Linked DNA regions of Homo sapiens: region 2 is linked to region 1. The links come from fine-mapping of genetic effects on plasma protein levels. A gene starts in region 1. The other region holds a variant in brackets. All regions are shown on one strand. Distances are between the middles of the regions. Region 1 holds the start of ZBP1 (Z-DNA binding protein 1). Region 2 overlaps ZBP1 (Z-DNA binding protein 1).

Evidence for each region. PIP is the chance, under the fine-mapping model, that this variant and not a neighbour inherited with it causes the effect. Protein levels are from antibody-based Olink assays in UK Biobank. Linkage for the fine-mapping came from a reference panel and not from the study's own genotypes, which makes the PIPs less certain.
Region 2: its variant is fine-mapped to the plasma level of the ZBP1 protein (UK Biobank, PIP 0.95).

The regions. Positions count from the first base shown.
Region 1 is chr20:57,617,502-57,624,499 of GRCh38, forward strand. ZBP1 (Z-DNA binding protein 1) reads right to left here and starts at 2,925. Exons shown (of 8, transcript NM_030776.3): 1 at 2,761-2,925. The coding sequence starts at 2,794. RefSeq lists enhancers at 478-1,337, 1,515-1,624, 2,705-2,754, 2,885-3,174.
Region 2 is chr20:57,597,919-57,610,838 of GRCh38, forward strand. ZBP1 (Z-DNA binding protein 1) reads right to left here. Exons shown (of 8, transcript NM_030776.3): 7 at 12,231-12,449; 8 at 5,934-6,851. The coding sequence ends at 6,655. Among named protein-coding and RNA genes, the nearest start is that of ZBP1, 16 kb to the right of the region's middle. The variant A/G (reference allele first, on the strand shown) is at 6,901.

The sequences.
Region 1 (6,998 bases):
GCACACAGTAGGTGCTCAGGAAATGGCAGTTGAATGTATGAGTGACTGAGTGAATGAATGAATGAATGAATGGGGCCAGGAGTGGTGGCTCACACTTGTAATCCTAGCACATCAGAAGGCTGAGATGGGAGGACCCCTAGAGGCCAGGAGTTCTAGACCAGCCTGGGCAACATAGTGAGACCCCCATCTCTACAAAAAAAGAGAAAAATCAGGTAGGTACGATGGCATATGCCTGTAGTCCCAGCTGCTTAAGAGGCTAAAAGTGGGAGGATCGCTTGAATCTAGGAGGTAGCAGTTGCAGTGAGCTATGAATGCACCACTGCACTCCAGCCTGGACAAGACCCCATCTCTGGAAAAAAAAAAAAAAAGGACTGAATGAGTGAGTGTCTGTCTCTAGGGACAGACGTTTACCCAATAGACCCTGGGCAGGGCCCGGGTAGCTTCTCCTTGGCCAGTTGGCAATGTGCTGCTGTTTCCTGGCCTGAGTTTAATGAGGACTAAGCAGGACCCCAAGAGGTTCAAGGAGGAATTCTCCAAATGGCCCCTGCTCCTCCTGAGGCAGCTCTTAAAAATCAAAACCATTAGCTCACACAATGATTAAAAGATCAAAGCCAGCTGCTCTGCCCAGAGATGAGGCTGGGGCAGACGCAGGTTACGGGCAGCACCTGGCAGCCAGCAGCCTGGGAGAGCCACTGTGGGCGGGGGCCCCACCTGTCACCAGGAAGCTTCTGCTTCAAGGAACCTGAGGGCAGTGCATGGGAGAGCCCTTCTTGGAAAGACCTGAGTTCCCCTTCCAGGACAGTGACTCAGTCCTTTGTCATCTGGGCTTTCTTTCCTGTTCAGAGGATTCTCCAGGTTTGCCCAGGGTTCCTTGGTCACAGCACTTGTAGGGGAGGGAAGAATCAGTTTGTGCCTCACCCTGATGGTTACAACGCTGACCGGCTTGCCGTGTGCAGGTGAAGACCAATTAGAAGACCTGGGAATTCCCACTCCTGCGCCCACCAAACTCCCCCACCGGCAGCCAGCAGCACCTCCATGCACCTGACTTCACACCTGGCTTCACCTTGTCTCGCAGAGTTTTTTGTTTTTTGGTTTTGAGATGGAATTTCGTTCTTGTTGCCTGGTCTGCGGCTGCAGTGGTGTGATCTCGGCTCACTGCAACCTCCACCTCCTGGGTTCAAGCAATTCTCTTGCCTCAGTCTCTCAAGTAGCTGAGATTACAGGCACGCACCACTACACCCGGCTGATTTTTGTATTTTTAGTAGAGACAGGGTTTCCCTTTTTGGCCAGGCTGGTGTCAAACTCCTGACCTTGGGTGATCCCCGCAACTCAGCCTCCCAAAGTGCTGGGATTGCAGGCGTGAGCCACTGCGCCTGGCCGCAGTTTTGATTCTGGAAGGCTGACCTTAGGGAGCCACTGCCTCGGCTCCACACACCCCAGAGGAGATGGGGGTCAGAGGTGTGGATGCAGGACAAGCACTGGCCCTGGGCTGGCCTCGACTGCTGAGTCCCAGGCTACTGTGTCTGAAAATGGGAAATTGTAAAATGGAGCAGGTGTAGGCAACAATTTGGTCACAAAAGGAAAATCAACTGGGGAGGAAGACAAGAAAAGCCAGCGAGGGCTGAGTCCGGAACCTGCGTCAGCACCCGTGAGTCCCCGAAGAGGAAGCTCCACAGGACCTCCGCGGTCAGCCCGGCTCCTGGGCCACACCCTGACATTAGCCCTCCCGGGGCACACTCTGTGTTGGTTTTTTAAAATTCTGATGGCTGATTTCCTGGGTTTGAGCTCCTAGCCCTGCCAACTACTAGCTGTGTGACCTCCCCTCCGGCTTCAGGTTCCTCTTCTGTGAAATGGAGACAGTAATAACTACTTCAAAGATTGTGGTGAGGATTAAAAACAAAACAAACACATCCCCCAAACCGCAAAACCACACTTCACCTACAGTCCACAGCGCTTAGTGGAGACCCTAGAGAACAGCAATTACTCGATACACTATTGGCTTTCATTGCAACTCTTCCAGGAATAAAATGAATGAAATGTTAGTTGAGGAAAGGATGCAACAAGGGGGAACAAAGGCACACATGTATCTCATCAAAGCAAACCGCTTTGTTCTCGATATGACTGTGACATGGGTGTTCAGACGCTAACACCAGCGTTCGCCAGCTGTGTTACCCTGAGAGTGTCATTTCACCTCTCAGGGCCTCAGTTATCTATAAAATGGGAATGACATGGCACTTGTCCCTGCAGGCCATCAGGAAATGCTTGGAAAGCATGTTTCGAGGTGCCTGGGGCACAGTCAGCTGTCAAAGGGGGATGGCTATGCTGTCCCTTTCTATTTTTTTTTTTTTTTTCTGAGATGGAATCTCACTCTGTCACCCAGTCTGGAGTGCAATGGCGACATCTCAGCTCACTACAACTTCCACCTCCCGGGTTCAAGCGATTCTCCAGCCTCAGCATCCCGAGTAGCTGGGATCACAGGCATGCGCCACCATGCCCGGTTAATTTTTGTAATTTTAGTAGAGATGGGGTTTCGCCATGTTGGCCAGGCTAGTGTCAAACTCCTGAGCTTAAACAGTCCACCTACCTCGCCTCCCAAAGTGCTGGGATTACAGGCGTGAGCCACCACGCCCAGCTGGTCTACTATTCTTTAGGATACTGCTATTGTCATCATGATCTGGACCAAGCGAAACAGGAGGAAAGAGAAGTAGAAATCTCACCCCGGGAGCTACCGCTGGTCCTTGGAAGGAAGAAGTACTGTACCTTCTCTGCCCGGGTCAGCAGGAGCCTGGGCCATGCTGACAGCAGCTGCAAGGAGTCGGAGAGACTTGGCAGGTGTGCAGGCTTCTGCACTGTGGCCCTGAGAGGGTGGGCTAGGTCGAGGCTGGGGCTTCTGAAGTGGCCGAGCCTGGTGCTTCTTGCAGCTCTGAACCCACAAGGGGAGGGATGCCAGCTTCCACTGGGCAGGTGTCAGCTGCTTACAGCCCGGAAATAGATGCCTAGCCAGGCCGGCCAGATTCGGTTTCAGGAGAAAAAGAAAATGAAACTTCTCTGTTCGTCTTTTGAAAGAAAAAAAAAGTGGAAGCCAGGTGGATGAGCAAGACAGAGTTGGGGACCTGACTTGATGTTGACAGGGAGGAGCTGTAAACTTGGCAAGACCAGAGCGTCCTCCGAAGAGGCCTTTGAGACAGAGGACTTCCCTCACCTTCCCCGTTCCAGGCACAGCCCACCTGGACCTCTACATTTTTATTTTCTGAATCAGCATCAGAGAACTGAAGAAAATAAAAATAAAAAAAAGAGCATGCACCACGTGGAGGGGGATGCCAGGGCGTGGCATCACTCTGATGATGTGAGGGGCTGGGGCTGGTTATCTGGTTTCTGTGTTTTTGTTTGTTTTTGAGACAGGGTTTCTGTCATCCAGGCTGGAGTGCAGTGGCGTGATCACGGCTCACGGCAGCCTCGACCTTCCGGACTCCAGCGATCCTCCCACCTCTCAGCCTCCCTAGTAGCTGGGACCACAGGCCTAGACCACCATGCCCGGCTAATTTTTGTATTTTCTGTAGAGATGGGGTTTCATCGTGTTGCCCAGGCTGGTCTCAAACTCCTGGGCTCAAGCGATCTGCCTGCCTTGGCCTCCCACAGTGCTGGGATTCCAGCCGCAAGCCCCCACGCCCGGCCCCGCTGGTTCCTGTAGTACTTCCTCCTCGGGGACTCACAGGTGCTACAGAGGCACCGTCCCCAGCTCTCAGTGGCTTTTCTTGTCTTCTTCCAGTTTGTTTCCCTTGCCCACACTAGGGGCAGAACATTTAGGTGCGTGAAGGCCCTGAGATTGTTCTTGTGTGTATCCATGTGAGCCTCTTTAATGAACACCTATTATGCGTTTTCCAATCTCAAGTGCTCCTCCAACCCATCTACAGGGTAGGGGCCAGTTCTGTCTTCTTCTCAGGGGGGAAACTGAGGCTAGAAAGGCAAGATCACTTGTCCAAGGCCACACAGAGTCCATGACAGAGCTTGTCCTGTCCATTCCCCAATTGTGTTTCCTGATCTATAACACCCAGAAGTCACTGGTGAATCACCCTTAGTGCACAGATGGCGTGGAGTTCCCCGCCTCATCATAAAACTTGCTTATTAATTCCAGAGTCAGATGCCTGGGGTCAGCAGCCGAGTGGTTCGGAATGCAAGCCTGGGTCAGCATGCTTGGGTCCAAACCTGGCTCCGCCATTTACCGGCTGTGTGACCTCGGACAAATTATTTAACCCCTCTGTGCCTCAGTTTCCCCATGTGTAAAAGGACTTAATCAAAGGACCTAGCGCATGGGGTCGAGGTGAGGACCTAAGGGGCTGATACAGCCCAGCTGTCGGGCTAGAGCCCCAGAGCCATCCGTAGTCACGGGCACCGTGGTCACCTCACAGGAATGCTTCTGGGAGAGGACCCGTTGCTTACATAATTCTCAAAAGGGCCAGTGACCTCAGAAAAACTCAGAGCCACTGTTCTCTTCCAGATCACAGAAGGAGGAACTGAGGCCCACAGAGGTGAATGCTGTGTACAAGGCCCCCCAGCTTTTGGCAGCCAAGGGGGTTGAGAGCTCAGCCCTGGAAGTCCCTGGACTTGGGGTCTGTGTCTCATCTGCAGAGGGCTGGGAGGGCTAGAGACGTCTGTGCTCCTTGCAGACCCCATTTATGCATAAGGAGCAGCTTAGCGGCAAATACAAATGGAAAGGGGGTCCGGAGGTTTATCCTGAAGCTATCTGTCTTTGCAGAGCGAGCACCTGGAGCCCAGGTCTTCCGCCCTGCCTGCATGTTAAGTGTTTGAAGCAAAAAAAAAGTCTCAATGCCCAGGCCGGCCCAGACTAGTCAACTCCAACCTCTGCGGCTGGGGCCCGAGGGTGAGATTTTTTATGCTCCTGGGTGACTTTTCCTGCTTCCAGGTGGAGAACCAGTAAGTCTGGGGCAAGTCAATAACAGCAAACTGCAGGATGCTTTTATTCTCCTTTTATGTAAAAGCGAAAACTGCAGGTATCACCCTATGAAATAACAATAGTGCTCTTTAAATGGGGGGGTAGGTGGGGTGCTGAGGGAGATGATGAAGGTGCCCTCCGGAAGGGGCTCCGGCTGAGCCCTGCAAGGCTGAGTCCCTTGGGTGTCTGGGGTGCCACGCCCGAACTGGCCACCAGGTGATGCCGCTCACCAACCTGGGCTTGGGCGCACCTTGGCTTCAAGTTCCCTCTGATCTGCAGGGAGGAGCTCCTACCCCAACCCATGGTTGGACTCCAGACTTGATGAATCACAGCTCCAAGACGTGCCCACCCCTCCCACTGCCTTGTCCTGCATCATCCTTTATTCTTCCTGTCTCTTCAGTCACTCATCGTGGTTTCTTCACTCATCTTTCCTGGAAGGAGTCAGATTCCAGCTGTTTCTCTGTGAAGCCTCCAGGCAGTTCTTTGTGCTCTTCCGGCCTGGCCTCCCAGTGTTGGTCTTGACACAGCCCACCACTCCCCCGTGGGGAAACTCTCTCTCCCCCCATCTCCAGGGCCCATGCTAGCTTCTCCCCTTCCTTCCCTGGCCTCTGCAGCTCAGGCCTTGACCCCAGGTCCCTGGTGGGCTTGCAGGTCAGGTTGAGGGATGTTAGCTTGGTCTTGGGTGCCAGCCTTACTTCTAGGAAGATGGCTTCTGCTGCAGGGAGGAGGCTGGTGCCCCTCACGGCTGGTCTCCATCCAGACTGTGCTTGGATGACCCCTTTCTGTCCCCGTGGCCACATCCTGAAGGCACATGGAGCCCCTCTGGGCCTGAGCCATTTTTAGGAGTCTGTAGCAGGGACCACCATGCCAGTGGAGACCAAGCGCCTCGGGAAGTTCCCTGGACAAGGATTCTGTCTTGTCTCTTCTCCAGGGCAGGTTCTCCTTCCCAGCTGTGTGGCGCTACCTCTCTGAGCCGCGGTTTCTTTAACTATAAAGCAGAGATACTAAGAAAAAGCATTTTTGACACTTAGTATGTGCTCACAACATTTGCATAAGTTAGAAAACATGATGCATCTCCACAGTATCTCTTTAGACAGCAAACAAACAAAAGAGAGCAATAGACAAAAAGAAGAAAACATTTCACGTGGGTAGGTTCCACCTTTCTTTGCATTCCATGGCACATCTGGAGATGAAGCCAGGAATCTGCTATGTGCTTGTCACCCACTGAGTGGGAGTCTTACTTTTAAATACTTAGATTGCCTTTATTTCTCTTCTCTATTTAAGAGCTGTTTAAGTTGAGTTTGACCCTAAGGATTATCTTTAAGCCTAAATACCAGTGGCTAAAACAATAGAGTTGTGTCTTTTTCTTGAAAGAGTTGTAGGCATTCCAGGTTTAGTGTGGTGACCTGGGGTCCTTCTACATTGTCGGTCTGCCATTTGTGGCCTTCATTCTCAAGTTTGCCTTACATTTTAGAATGGCTGCTAAGCTCCAGCCATTACATCTGCATTCCTTCCAGCAGGGAGTAGGAAAGGGAACAAGGGCAGATATCTCCCTTTAAGCACGCATCTTACAAGTTGCACACACATTCCACTAATACCCCATTGGTCAGTCTTGTGGCTCTTATCTGTAAGGGGAGGCCTGGAAAGATGGTCTGTATTGTGGGTCACCATGTGCTCAGCTAAAATTGGGGTTCTATGACTTTAAAATGGGGGACAGTAGATATTGGCAGAGACCTAGCTATCTCTGCCATTTCAAGGTTCCCTGGTGTCCCCAAGAAAGGAGCAAAGATACCTCCTCTGTGCCTTCAGGTGTGTCCATTCACGGGGTTCATTTATTCAGCAGTTGCTGTGCCTCCTTACTCTGCCTGGAAAGGGCCTCAAAGGCCACAAGACTTCCAAGATGGCACCACTGCCTGCTGGAGTCCTCATCTCCTTTTGCCTTGGAAGGCGCACTCCCTGTTCATGGCTTGTGTTTTTCTGGAAACTATTAGAGCTCTCCGCCCAAACCAGATGATAATTACATGTTACTGATCTTGAGTCTTTA
Region 2 (12,920 bases), 17 kb before region 1:
TCCTGCATTATCAGGGTGGCCTCGATGTCATCACAGGGGTCCATCTAAGAGGAAGGAGGAGGTGAGAGGGAAAGACAGAGGTTCAGAGCCGGTAAGCCAGATGCTGGGGGCAGAGAGGAGTCACACAAATGGGGGGATCAAAGATTCACCTCCAGGATCTCCCAGCCACGCAGTTCACCCCCCACACCCCTGACCTGCAGGTGGAGCTGGGAGGGCCAGGCCTGTCTCGAGCTCTGTAGCCAGGGGCGCCAGACCCCCTCCCCCCTTTCCCCACCCCCGGCCCCCCAGCTGACACTCCCGCCTTCAGGGCTTTGCCGGCACTGGCCCTGCTGGATTGCTTCTCCAGCAGCTGGGGGCATTCAGCTGATTGTGGCAAAGGCCACTGTGCCCCGGGGTGGGCGTGGGGGGCAGGTCAATGAGACACAGTGGGGGAGCTGACCAGCCAGGGGCTGGGAGGTGACAGCCAGGCCGCGGTGATATGTCCCAGGCAGCTTTTTCAGTAACATGTTTAAGAGCACTGGCTTGCAAGCCTGCCTGATGGCTGGGTTTGAATCCTATCTCTGTCCTTGGGCAGTAGTTTCACCTCCCTGAGTGGGTTTGAATCCTATCTCTGTCCTTGAGCAGTAGTTTCACCTCCCTGAATGGGCTGCCTTGGAATCATGCAGCGGGGGCTGCATCATGCTGCGTATCCACAACTGTCCAAGGAACCCTTGTTTCACAGGAGCTCTTGCAGAAGAGGGTTTTCATGGAATGCAAAATCCTGGTCCTGCTGGCCCCTCCCCATCTGAGGTGATGTGGCTGCCCGTGGGTGGGTGCCAGTCTGCTGTCATCCGTGGGAGCTAGCAGCCTGGCAGATGGGAGTGTTAAATCCTCCGTGATGGGTTGACCACCAGGACTGGAAAAATCTGGTTTTCAATCTGGAATTTTGAACATGGGTCTCACTTGTCAGCCATGTGGCTTTGGGCAAGCCACTTACCCTCCCTTGGCCCCAGTCTCCTCATGTACTTAAGGGGAGGATTAAAGAATGCTTAGAAAATGCCCTTGTCACAGAAGGTCCACACCATTCTAAGCACCCCCAAATTCAGGGGTGAGCCTGGATTGGCTACAGCTAATGACTCTCATCCCCATGCCCAATTGGAGGTGGCAAATACTGGGGTGGTTTAGAAATTGCTTTTGTCCCCTGTGGGAATGTGAGGTCTGGAACCACTGCAGCCATTTTGTCCCCAGCAGGGCAGAACTCTTAGTGGCTGGAAAGTCTCCGTGTGGAGCCTGAAAAAGCTGAGTCTGTGGGAAGCCATGAAGAGAGATGGAGGGACAGTGGGTCCTGAACCACATTGTTTGAGCTGCTGGATGAGGCCTTACCTGAACACTGCTAGTTTGTGAGTCAATAAGCACGCTAAAAAAAAAACAACAAAAAAACCTGCTTTTTGTTTTGATTCAAAAGTACAAATAGATCTGCAACATCCCACCTACAATATTGAACAGATGCCTAAACATACAGTCGTCCCCCAGTATCCCCAGGGGATTGGCTCCAGGACTCCCTGTGGGTACAAAATCCATGGATACTCAAGTCCCTGATATGAGATGATATAGTATTTGCATATAACCTATGCACATCCTCCTGTATACTTTAAATCATCTCTAGATTACTTATAATACCTAAAACAATGTGAATGCTATGTAAATAGTTGTTATACTGTATCATTTAGGGAATAATGACAAAAAAGTCCACACGTGTTTAGTACAGATGCAGTCATCTTGTTTTTCAGATATTTTCGATCCTCAGAACCCACACATACATAACCGACTGTATTTTTAAAAATCTTATTGGTTTCATTTTTCCCACTTGAAAATTTTTTCCCACATTCACTCAGCCTTCCATTCCAGGCCAGACCCAGTGGCTTCATAGGTTTTCTGTGCAGTATCAGGCTTCAGATTCTCACAACTCCCCATGCAGGGTTTTGTTTTGTTTTTTTTTTTTTTTTTGAGCCTTCGGTGGCTGGGGCCCTGTGGAGAGAGACTCATCAGAGAGCAGAGAGCTGGAGAGAAAGAAGCCTGAAAGGAAGGCTTGAGCCTCTGGATCCAACCATTCCTGAACATGAGTGTCCCTTGATTCCCCAGTTGCATGAGCAAATACATTCACCATTGTGCCTGAGCCTGGGGAGCTAGGCTTCGGCCATTCAAAGCCAAAATGCCCGTGAGTCCCTCTGTAGACTCTTCTTCCTGCTCTAAGCATCCAATTTTGGTTGCCTGGTAAAATCTCACAAGTGAGGAGTCCTGTCTGGGGTCACCCAGAGAGGAGGAGAGCAGCTGGAATGAGAACATAAAATTGCATCTGTGAGCAGGTTGGTGGTTTCAGAAAATCATTTCCAACTCCTGGAGCAAATTCCTCCTCCCTGCATCGAGTTCTGGGGGCTACAAGCTCCGTTTGCACACACCATGGCAGAAGGGAGGGGTGGGTGGGCGGGCTAGACACAGCGCGGGCTGAGGGGTGGATGGACTTAATCATTCTCTGCTTTTAATGGTATCTAGTTAATTTCCTTCCCAAGGAGACTAACATTGACCTTCACCTCTGGCCCCCATTAACTGCTAGCAATGCTTTGTCAGCGTATTTATGACAAATTAATTACACAGGGAAAATCTTGCTGGGAAAATGAGTATTCTGATTCAGCCTGGGGGTGGAAGCTGCATTTTGATTCCTCATTGACAGGGGGCCTGGTTATCCACAAAGTTTGGCCAAACTTGGAGGCAAGCAACTGATTTGCAGCTCCATGCAGCAGGAAGACACGCCCAGAAAGATAGACAAACCCCATTCTCATCCCCTCCTGCCTAGTGACTCATGTTTGCAAACTGGGTACTCTATGAGAAAATACTCTGGGGATCCCAGATCAGCATGGTGGTTGAGATAACTTTGCCTACAGTATGGCTGAGCAGCTCCAGTCCATGGGACAAGACACCCTATCCCCCAGAGTCAATCCAATGGCTGTACCGACCTTGTTGCCTAGGTCTGCCCAGTCCTCCCTGTGGGCTGGCTTGTACAGCAGTGTCTGGTCCAAACTCCCAAGCGGCCATGGTCTGGTCCCCACCTGCCTCCGCAGCCAGCCTCCCTCCACTCTTCTTTGTGCTGGGCTCTCCGGCAATACCCAAACCACGGTGGTTCTCTGAATAACTCAGCTGGTTCTGATCTTCATGGCTTTACTCCAGCTGTGGCCTGCCTAGAGCACCATTTCCACCCTACGCAGCCTCCTCCCTCTGCCTGGTCTTGAAAAATGTGCTCTTGAGAGTTCCCTCCTCCTCCAGGAAGCCTTCTGGACCCCTCTAGGCTGTGTCTGGGCCCCTGTCCCACACTCCCATGATTCCCTGTGATGGTTCCTGCTCTGAACTCCCTGCCTGTGTACGTTCCCCTCCTGACTCACTGTGAGCCACTATCAATGACAGGGCTTTGTCTCCCACTCTCAGTAGCCCAAGGGCCCAGCACAGGAGTTAGCCTGCAGGATGTGGTCAGTGAAGGGCCTTGTCCAGCATACATTGGACCCTGGAGGTATAAGAGTTGAAAGCCAGGGCCCCTGAGTCCAGTAAATTCCTCATTCAAAGCTGGGGAGTGTAGCGGACTTCTGAGGTTCTAGCCTGTCCAGCATCCCTTTCCTGGTAAATTTAGAAAACAGCTGATCCATCACCCTTAGGCCATGTGACTGGGGGTGGCTGCTCCCCATCCTGGTTCCAGAGATAAGCTATGTGATACCAGTTGGCCAATCACCGCATTCTATTGCTCTGGCCAATGACTGGTGGGGAATGGGCATACAAATAAAGCCATCTGTTGTGGCTTTTGCTGTCGGGAAAGTCATCCCTCTCCACTGGGTAGCTAAGCTAGTGGTGTGGGGGCCTGGAGCTGCTGGGGGCTATCATTGAAAACAGAGGAAAGCAGTAGGGGGGTGGAGCGAGGCTGAGTTCTAAGAGATCACCTGAGCTCCTGGATCTAGACATTCCTGAAGCAGGCTCTATGCCTGGGCTTGTCTATTAGAAGATCCAGTGCATCCCCTTTTGTGCTGAAGCAGGTCTCAGCTTTCTATCATCTACGACCAAATGAGTCTCGATGGACGAGAGCTAGACTAATGACAAGGCAATGTTGGGGCAATGAAGTGTGGGTTTGATATGGGGAGCAGAGGAGGCTTCAGAAGCAGACAGGAGGCATCCAGCTAGCCTGGGAGCTCTGAAATCTCTCGGTAAGGTCATGCCTCAGGTTGAGTAGCAGTGAGCTAAGGGGAGTGGGTAGGGGAGGTGAGGGGGCAGCTGCCCTTCAGAAATGGAAATCCCAGTGGAGCTGGCTTCAGCACTAAGGGGACATCTCAGTTCTTCTAATGGGTAAGTGCTAGGATAGGTTCTGCTTCAGGAATGACTGGATCAAGGAGCTCAAACAATGTCTTACGAATCCCCTTTAAGGGATGAACTGTAAGTTCTATATATCAGTCTAGGTTCTGACCAATATGTCAAAGCATCCACCCTAAAGATCCTCCCAGTCGAGTTGGGCAAGGAGATATGAATTTGTTCAATAACTGTTTTTACTGAGGCCCTGTGATGAGCCAGCCCCTCCCCGCCAAGGTAGACATTAGCCCCAGGGGCATCAGCTTTTGGGTGTCAGATGCCAAGGCCAGTGAAGGAGACAGAGTGGAGTGTGACAAACGCCCACCTGAGGACTGGGTGTGGCATTGGAGTTGGGGGCAGCAGAGTGCCTGTGTGTGTGCATGTGTGTGTGTACACCTGTGTGTGCATGTGTGTGTGCCTATGTGCACACTGAAGGACGGACACAGTCCTTGTTCCACAATCACCCTGCCCAGCTGATCACCACCTCCCTCTATCCCTCTCCATCTTCCTCCCACCATGCCCCACCAAATCCCTCCACTACCCACCCCACCCCATGGTTCAAGAAATGTTGCAGAGCCCATAGCCCTTCTACGGGAACTTAGCCCCTAGCGGGGTGGTGGGGTCTGGTAAATAACAAGCTGACATGGTTTTGCTGTGTCCCCACCCAAATCTCATCTTGAATTGTAGCTCCCATAATTCCCATGTGTTGTGGGAGAGACTCAGCAGGAGATAATTGAATCATGGGGATGGTTCCCCCATACTGTTCTCCTGGTAGTGAAGTAAGTCTTATGAGATCTGATGGCTCCATAAGGGAAGCCACTTTCCCTTGGCTCTCATTCTCTCTCTTGCCTGCTGCCATGTAAGACGTGCCTTTCGCCTTCCACCGTGATTGTGAGGCCTCCCCAGCCACGTGGAAGTGTGAGTCCGTTAAACTTCTTTTTGCCTATAAATTACCCCGTCTTGGGTATATCTTTATCGGCAGCGTGAAAATGGGCTAATCCACAAGCACTCCCTGCTGATTGGCCAGAAGAGGTCACCTGACCCATGGGTCAGCCAATGACTTCCACCAGGGCCTGGGGACCCAGGGTCGGGGTGGGAAAGAATTTTCTCTTTGGGAGTCCAGCTAAAAGATCCTGAGAGATCAAGGCTGAGGAGAGAAGATTCTAGAAAGGTCGGGTGATAAGGAGGTCAGGTGGCCACAATGGGCCTTGAGGAAGTGAGACCTCAGGTGAGGAGAGAGTGGGGCAGTGTTTCAGTTGGCTCAGGCTGCTATAAAAAAATGCCTCACCCTGGGTAATTTATAAGCAACAGGAATTTATTGCTTACAGTTTCGGGGTCTGGGAAGGCCAAGATCAAGGTGCCAGCAGAGTCAGTGTCTGATGAGGGGTTGGTCTCGGCTTTAAGGATGGCACTTTGTTACTGCATCCTCACATGGCGGACAGGCAAGCGGGACTAACAGGCTCCCTCAAGCCCTTTCATGGCAGCGCTAATCCCACAATCCCACTCGCCCTCCTGACTCCATCCCCTCCAAAAGGCCCCATCTCTTCATACCACTGCACTGGGGATTATGGTTGGTTTATTTTTTATTTATGTATTTATTTTTTTGAGACGGAGTCTCGCTCTGTCGCCCAGCCTGGAGTGCAGTGGCGCGATCTCGGCTCACTGGAAGCTCCACCTCCCGGGTTCACACCATTCTCCTCCCTCAGCCTCCGGAGTAGCTGGGACTCCAGGTGCCCGCCACAACGCCCGGCTAATTTTTTGTATTTTTTTTTTTAGTAGAGACGGGGTTTCACCATGTTAGCCAGGACGGTCTGGATTTCCTGACCTATTGATCCGCCCGCCTCGGCCTCCCAAAGTGCTGGGATTACAGGCGTGAGCCACTGCACCCAGTTGGGATTATGTTTTGATATGAATTTTGTTGGGACTCAAACATTCAAACCACAGCAGGTAGCCATGATGGAAGGTAACTCCAGGCAGATGCCCCGAGCCCAGGAAAGAGTGGAGAGAGTCCCCTGGGCCTGGGGGACCGAGCCCCACTCCCATCTACCCACCTCCTCTTGGCACACCAAAGGTTCCCCAAGGCAACTCCCTGTCATCTACTCCTGGCCATCAAAAGACCTGGCCTGAACCCATCCCCATGCCAGGTCCATTCCCCCAAAACTGATTCATGCAGGTTATGTCTGGAAGCAAGCAGGTCAAACAAGACGCTAAGGAATGCAGAGAGCAGCAGGCTAGTCTCCCTAGCATGCGCCCACCCCCAGCCTGTGTCCAAGCCCCACGTGAGGCTGTGCACTAAATCCCACCTCCCCACCAGCTCCCCTCGTGTGAGGCTTCATCCACATAGTGGCTGCCTTCTGCAGCTTTGTGACTCCTGTTTCCAAGAGTCATAGTTTCCAGCTTGGGGGTGAGCTTCGAGTGGCTGGGAGTGATGGGCTGACCAATGTCTCGAGGAAAGTGACTTCTGGATTGTGTGTCTGCGGGACGACGACCTAGGGAAGAGAAGATGGGGGATCAGCTTCATGGGCACGTGGCCTGGGC[A/G]TTTCCACAGGGACCCGCTCTTGGAAGGATTTCGAGCTCAGCTTGAGCCTTTGTTGTTACTGTCTTTAGATTTGTACAAAGTCTTGAACAGGGAGCCCCACCTTTTCACTTTGCACTGGGCCCCCAGATCATGTAGCCAGTCCTGTCCTAGTTTCACAGCAGTGAGATGGAGGAGCAGAAATAACACCAGAAAGCCCCCATCCCAGGGCTCTCCCAGTCCTCCCAGGGACCCCAAAAGACGGCTCTACATGCTCTGGCACTGACAGTCTCTGATTAGCAATTTCCTCAAACAAAACAAAACAAAACAAAACAAAACAAAACAAAAACCATTCCAGGCCTTACACATCTCAGGATAAGGTCCCGCCCGCCACTCAAGGAGGAAGTGACAGGCAGACCTCATTTTATCTCACTTTACCTTATTGTACTTTGGTTTATTACACTTCATAGATATTGCACTCATTTTTCACAAGTTGAAGGTTTGTGGCACCCTGTGTGAAGCGAGTCTATCAGTGCCAATTTTTCCAGCAGCATATGCTCACTTCCTGTCTCTGCGTCACATTTTGGTAATCCTCACAATATTTCACACTTTTTCATTTTGATTATATGTGTTATGGTGATCTGTGACCAGTGATCTTTGATGTTGCTATTATAATTGCTTTGCTTTGGGGTGCCACAAATATCACCTGTAGAAGATGACGAAGTTAATTAATAAATCTGTGTGCTCTAACCTGTCACTGATCAGCCATCTCCTCCTCTCTCTCCCTCTCCTCAGGCCTCCCTATTCCTTGAAGACACAACAATATTGAAATTAGGAAAATTCATAACCCTACAATGGGCCGGGCGCCGTGGGTCACACCTAGAATCCCAACACTTTGGGAGGCTGAGGTGGGCAGATCACCTGAGGTTGGGAGTTCAAGACCAGCCTGACCTACATGGAGAAACCCCATCTCTACTAAAAATACAAAGTTAGCCAGGCGTGGTGGTGCAGGTCTGTAATCACAGCGACCCAGGAGGCTGAAGCAAAAGAATCCCTTGAACCTGGGAGGTGGAGGTTGCAGTGAGCCAAGATTGTGCCATTGCACTCCAGCCTAGACAACGAGAGCAAAACTCCATCTCAAAAATAAATAAATAAATAAATAAATAACCCCAAACGGCCTCTATGTGCTAAAGTGAAAGGAAGAGTTGCACGTCTCTCACTTTAAATCAAAAGTGAGAAATGATTAAGCTTGGTGAGGGAGGCATGTCCAAAGCTAAGACAAGTTGAAAGCTAGGTCAAAAGTTAGCCAAATTGTGAAGGCAAAGGAAAGGGTCTTGAAGGATATTAAAAGTCTTACTTCAGCAAACACATGAGTGATGAGAAAGTGAACCAGCCTTGTGGCTAGTGTGGAGAAAGTTTTAGTGGTCTGGATAGAGGATCGAGCCAGCTACAACAATCTCTTAAACCTAAGCCTCGTCTAGGGCAAGGCCCTTGCTCTATTCAATTCTAAAGGCTGAGAGAGGTGAGGAAGCTGCAGAAGAATAGTTGGAAGTGAGCAGAGGTTGGTTCATGAGGTTTAAGGAAAGAAACCGTCCCCATAACATGCAAGTGTGAGGTGAAGCAGCAAGTGCTGATGGAGAAGCTGCAGCAGGTTACCCGGAAGCTCTAGCTAAGATCATTGATGAGCGTGACTACACAACAGAGCAGGTTCTTAATGTAGATGAAACAGCCTTCTATTGAAAAAAGATGTCATCTAGAACTTTCATAACTCGAAAGGAGATGTCAATGCCTGGCTTCAAAGCTTCAAAGGGGACAGGCTCTCTTGTTGGAGATTAATGTAGCTGGTGACTTTCAGCTGAAGCCTCTCCTCAATTACCATTTTGGAAATTCTAGGGCCCTTAAGAATGATGCTAAATCGACTCTGCCTATGTTCTATGAATGAAGCAACAAAGCTAGATGAGAGCACCTGTATATAGCTTGGTTTACTGAATATTTTAAGCCTAGCATTGAGACTTACTGCTTAGAAAACAAAATATTCCTTTGAACATTTCACTGCTCATCGTCCATACCACAGGATCTGAGTGTTCCGCATCCTGGATTGAGGGCCAAAAAAAAATTTTTTTTTTACTACTCGTTGACAATGCACCTGTTCATCCACGGGCTCTGATGGAGATGTAAAAAAGAATTAACATTGTTTTCATGCCTGCTAGCACAGCATCCATTCTGCAGCCCATGGATTAAGGAGTAACTTCAACATTCACTTCTTATTCTTCAATAAATATATTTTATGAGGGCATAAGTGCAACACAGAGTGATTCCTCAGATGGATCTGGGCAAAGTAAGTTGAAAATCTTCTGGAAAAGATCACCAATCTACATGCCGTTAAGAACATTTGTGATTCATGGGAGGAGGTCAAACTATCAACATTCACAGGAGTCTGGAAGAAGTTGATTCCAAATTTCATGAATGACTTTGAGGGGTTCAAGACTTCAGTGAAGGCAGCAACTGCAAATGTGGTGGAAATAGCAGGAAAACACAAATTAGAAGTGGAATATGAAGATGGGACTGAATTGCTGCAATCTCATGAGAAAGCTTGAACAGATGAGTTGCTTCTTATGGATGAGCAAAGAAAGTGGTTTCTTGAGATGGCATCTATTCCTGGTGAAGATACTGCGAACATTCTTGAAATGACAACAAAGGATTTAGACTGCTATATAAACCTAGTTGGTAAAGCAGCAGCAGGGTTGGGGAGTCTTGGTTCCAATTTTGAAAGAAGTTCTAGTATGAGTAAAATGCCATCAAACAGCATTGCATGCTACAGAGAAAGCTTTCATGAAAGGAAGAGTTCATTGCTGCAGCGAACTTCATTGTTGCCTTATTTTAAGAAATTGCCACAGCTGCCTCCACCTTCAGCAACCACCACCCTGATCAGTCAGCAGCCATCAACATCAAGGCAAGACCTCCACCAGCATAGAGATGATGACTGGCAGAAGACAGGTGATGGTTAGCATTTTTAGCAATAAAGTATTTTAAAATTAAGGTATGTACATTGTTTTTTAGATATAACGTGATTCAGTGCACACCTAATAGACTAGAGCATCGTGTGAATATAACTTGTATATGCACTGGGAAATCAAAAATTTGCATGACTTGCTTTATTGGGGTGTTCTGGAACTCACCCATAATATCTCTGAGCTATGCCTATTGATGTCTCTTGGGGACAAAGAGAGGTGGGTGGGTCAGGGCAAGGGGCAAAGATGTCATCAGCTCTTCTGCTAGAACCTTAGGGAAGAATGTCAGGATGTTGCAGGGCAAATCTGGGAGTGTGACCATTTTTTTTTTTTGAGACAGAGTCTTGCTCTGTCGCCCAGGCTGGAGTGCAGTGGCATGATCTTGGCTCACTGCAAGCTCCGCCTCCCAGGTTTACGCCATTCTCCTGCCTCAGCCTCCTGAGTAGCTGGGACTACATGTGCCCGCCACCATGCCTGGCTAATTTTTTGTATTTTTTAGTAGAGAGAGGGTTTCACCGTGTTAGCCAGGATGGTCTCGATCTCCTGACCTCGTGATCCACCTGCCTCGGCCTCCCAAAGTGCTGGGATTACAGGCATGAGCCACTACACCCAGAAGTGTGGCTATTTTTAAAAAACACAGTGCTGTGTTCTTTCCGGAAAGAGAAGTCTTCAATGGTCTGGCTTGAGACCCACAGGGCTCTGCAGACAGCCTGTGCTGTGGGGTCCTAAGCCGGATCCCCATCTGGTGGCACATGCCCTCCCAAGGGTCCCCAGTGGCCTTGGAGGTCTCAGAGACTCCCTTTGCTGCTGGAAGGAAGTCCATGCTCCCAGATGCTCATGGCCTGAGTCCTGAGGAATGCGCTCCTGGTCCCCGTTCTGCAGGTGTCACATGTGCATGGGGCTCCCAGGGGTCCTGGAGGGAGAGTTTGAAGACACGTGGGGCCAGGGTCTCCTCAGTTGCTGGGACAGCAAGGACACGGCCCTTGGGGTGAGGAGACCCTCTGGACTTCCAGGACATGCATCCCCTGGGCCTTCAGGCACTGGAGGGTGGATGCCGGCCAGTCCTCCAGATTCCGTGAATCCATGTTTTCTACCCATTGGTGGGACTGGGTGTGATTCCTTATTCCAGATCCCAAAAGGGTAGGAGCGGAAATCCGCCTTCTAATTCTTTTTTCACATGGGAGGCAAAAATCTCATCCAGCCCCTCTCCTGCTCAAAGCCCCCCATGGCTTCCAATTGCCTTAGCATCGACTGCAGCCTGGAGCCAGGCCCTGGCTCTGCTCTCCATGCTCAGGTCACCCTCAAACCCCTGTGGGTTCCCACACTGTCATGTCCTCACCTCCAGGCCATTGTCCACACTGTTCCACCCACCAGGTACACCTGCCCTGGCCCTCCCCACCTTGCGTGGACCTGCCCAACTCTCCAGCTGCCCCCACCCGAGGCCCCGAGCTCCCTTCTGCAGAGTTGGAATCCTCAGGCTCTGCAACCAGCCTGTGCAGCTTCCAGGGACCAAACGGTGGCTGGGACGGTGAACCGCACTGGTTTCCCCTCTCCCCTCTTCCTGTTGGCAGTGGAGCCCCCTCCCCTGAGTCTCTGCTGGGCTTAGACTGCCTTGACACAGGCGGCACTTCCCAGACCCCCCGTGGCTAAGTGCAGGCCCTCAGAACAGCACAGATGCAGTGGGTGGGCTTGGTCAAAGACAACAGCGGCTCTCTGTACCCTCTCTCGCCCCTCTGCTTGCTGGTGCTAAGTTCAACCCCACAGATGAGGACGGAGCCCAAGGGACGACTCAGCACTGAGGTAAAAGAAACCCTGGTCTGCTACCCTCACCCGGACATGAGACTTGGGCTTCAAGCAGGCGGGGCCACCGTGTGTGGCATCTCCACTGCAGCAGGTCAGCCTGTGCCCTGATGCAGAACCTTATTTGCATGGCAACCCAGCACCTCTCTCGGGCCCAAAACAATCACCACAACAATGATGAGACAATAACACTCCTATCTCCTGAATGCTGGCAGGGCTGGTGTAGGGCTGAGCTTCGCCTTCAGATTTTACCCCAGTCTTGCAACCACTGTAGGAGTTGCTTCAGGCTATTCTTGCCATCCCACTTTACAGCTAAGGAGACAGAGGCTCCTGGGTGAAATGACTTGGGTGGGTCCCTCCACTAGGGGGACGGAGCCTCCACGCTGACTCTAGAGCTGCTGCTCCTCGCTGTGGGTGGGCACAGCCTCCAGACTCCGGGAAACCAGAGATTAGCGAATGATCGATGAGAGTGAATGAATGAATGAGTGGAAGGTGGGGAGAGAGAGAGAACACACAGGGGTCCACTCTGCCCCCTAGCTCACCTGCGTCCTCCCCTGGCTCCCCCTCTCCAGACCCTGCGACTCCTCCTGGGCCAGCCACCCCTGGGCTGATAGACATTTTGTTGCTGTTGCCGATGGTGGCGTCCTCGAGAAAGCACGATTTCATGTGGATTCTCTGGGCGGCTTCCCCCTCAGGGTGAGTTCCTGGACTGGGAATTCTTGCTTCAAACGAAGCTTCTGGGCCGGCAGCAGTGGCAGAGACTGTGGGTCAAAGGGAGAGAGGCCTGGAGCCAGGAGCAGCTGGACAGTGGCCGGGAACCCTGACCCCCAGCCTGGTTCACCCTCCTCCCCAGATCTCCCACCAGTGGCCCACACCATCCCAGGAGCACAGCCTGTGCCTGCCCGCCACACCTCCACCCGCCACACCTCCGCTCGTGCTGTTGTGCTGTCTGGGAAGCGTCTTTCTGCTCCACTGATCCCGCAGTGGGTCTGCCCCACTGATCCCGCCCGGCTGATCTGGACGTCAGTGTCTTCCTCTGGGATTCAGCTCCTCTCTCCTCTGCTGCCTGCTTCCCACTGCACTGGAACACTGGCCCCCACTTTTGGTTGAAATCTTATGGGGGCTCCCAGCCTGGCCCCAGCTCCTGCCATCTGGCTCTGCCCTTTCCCACCCAAACTTCTGAAGAATCATCCACACTGAGTCCCGCCCCCTCCACCCCCGAGACCTCTTCT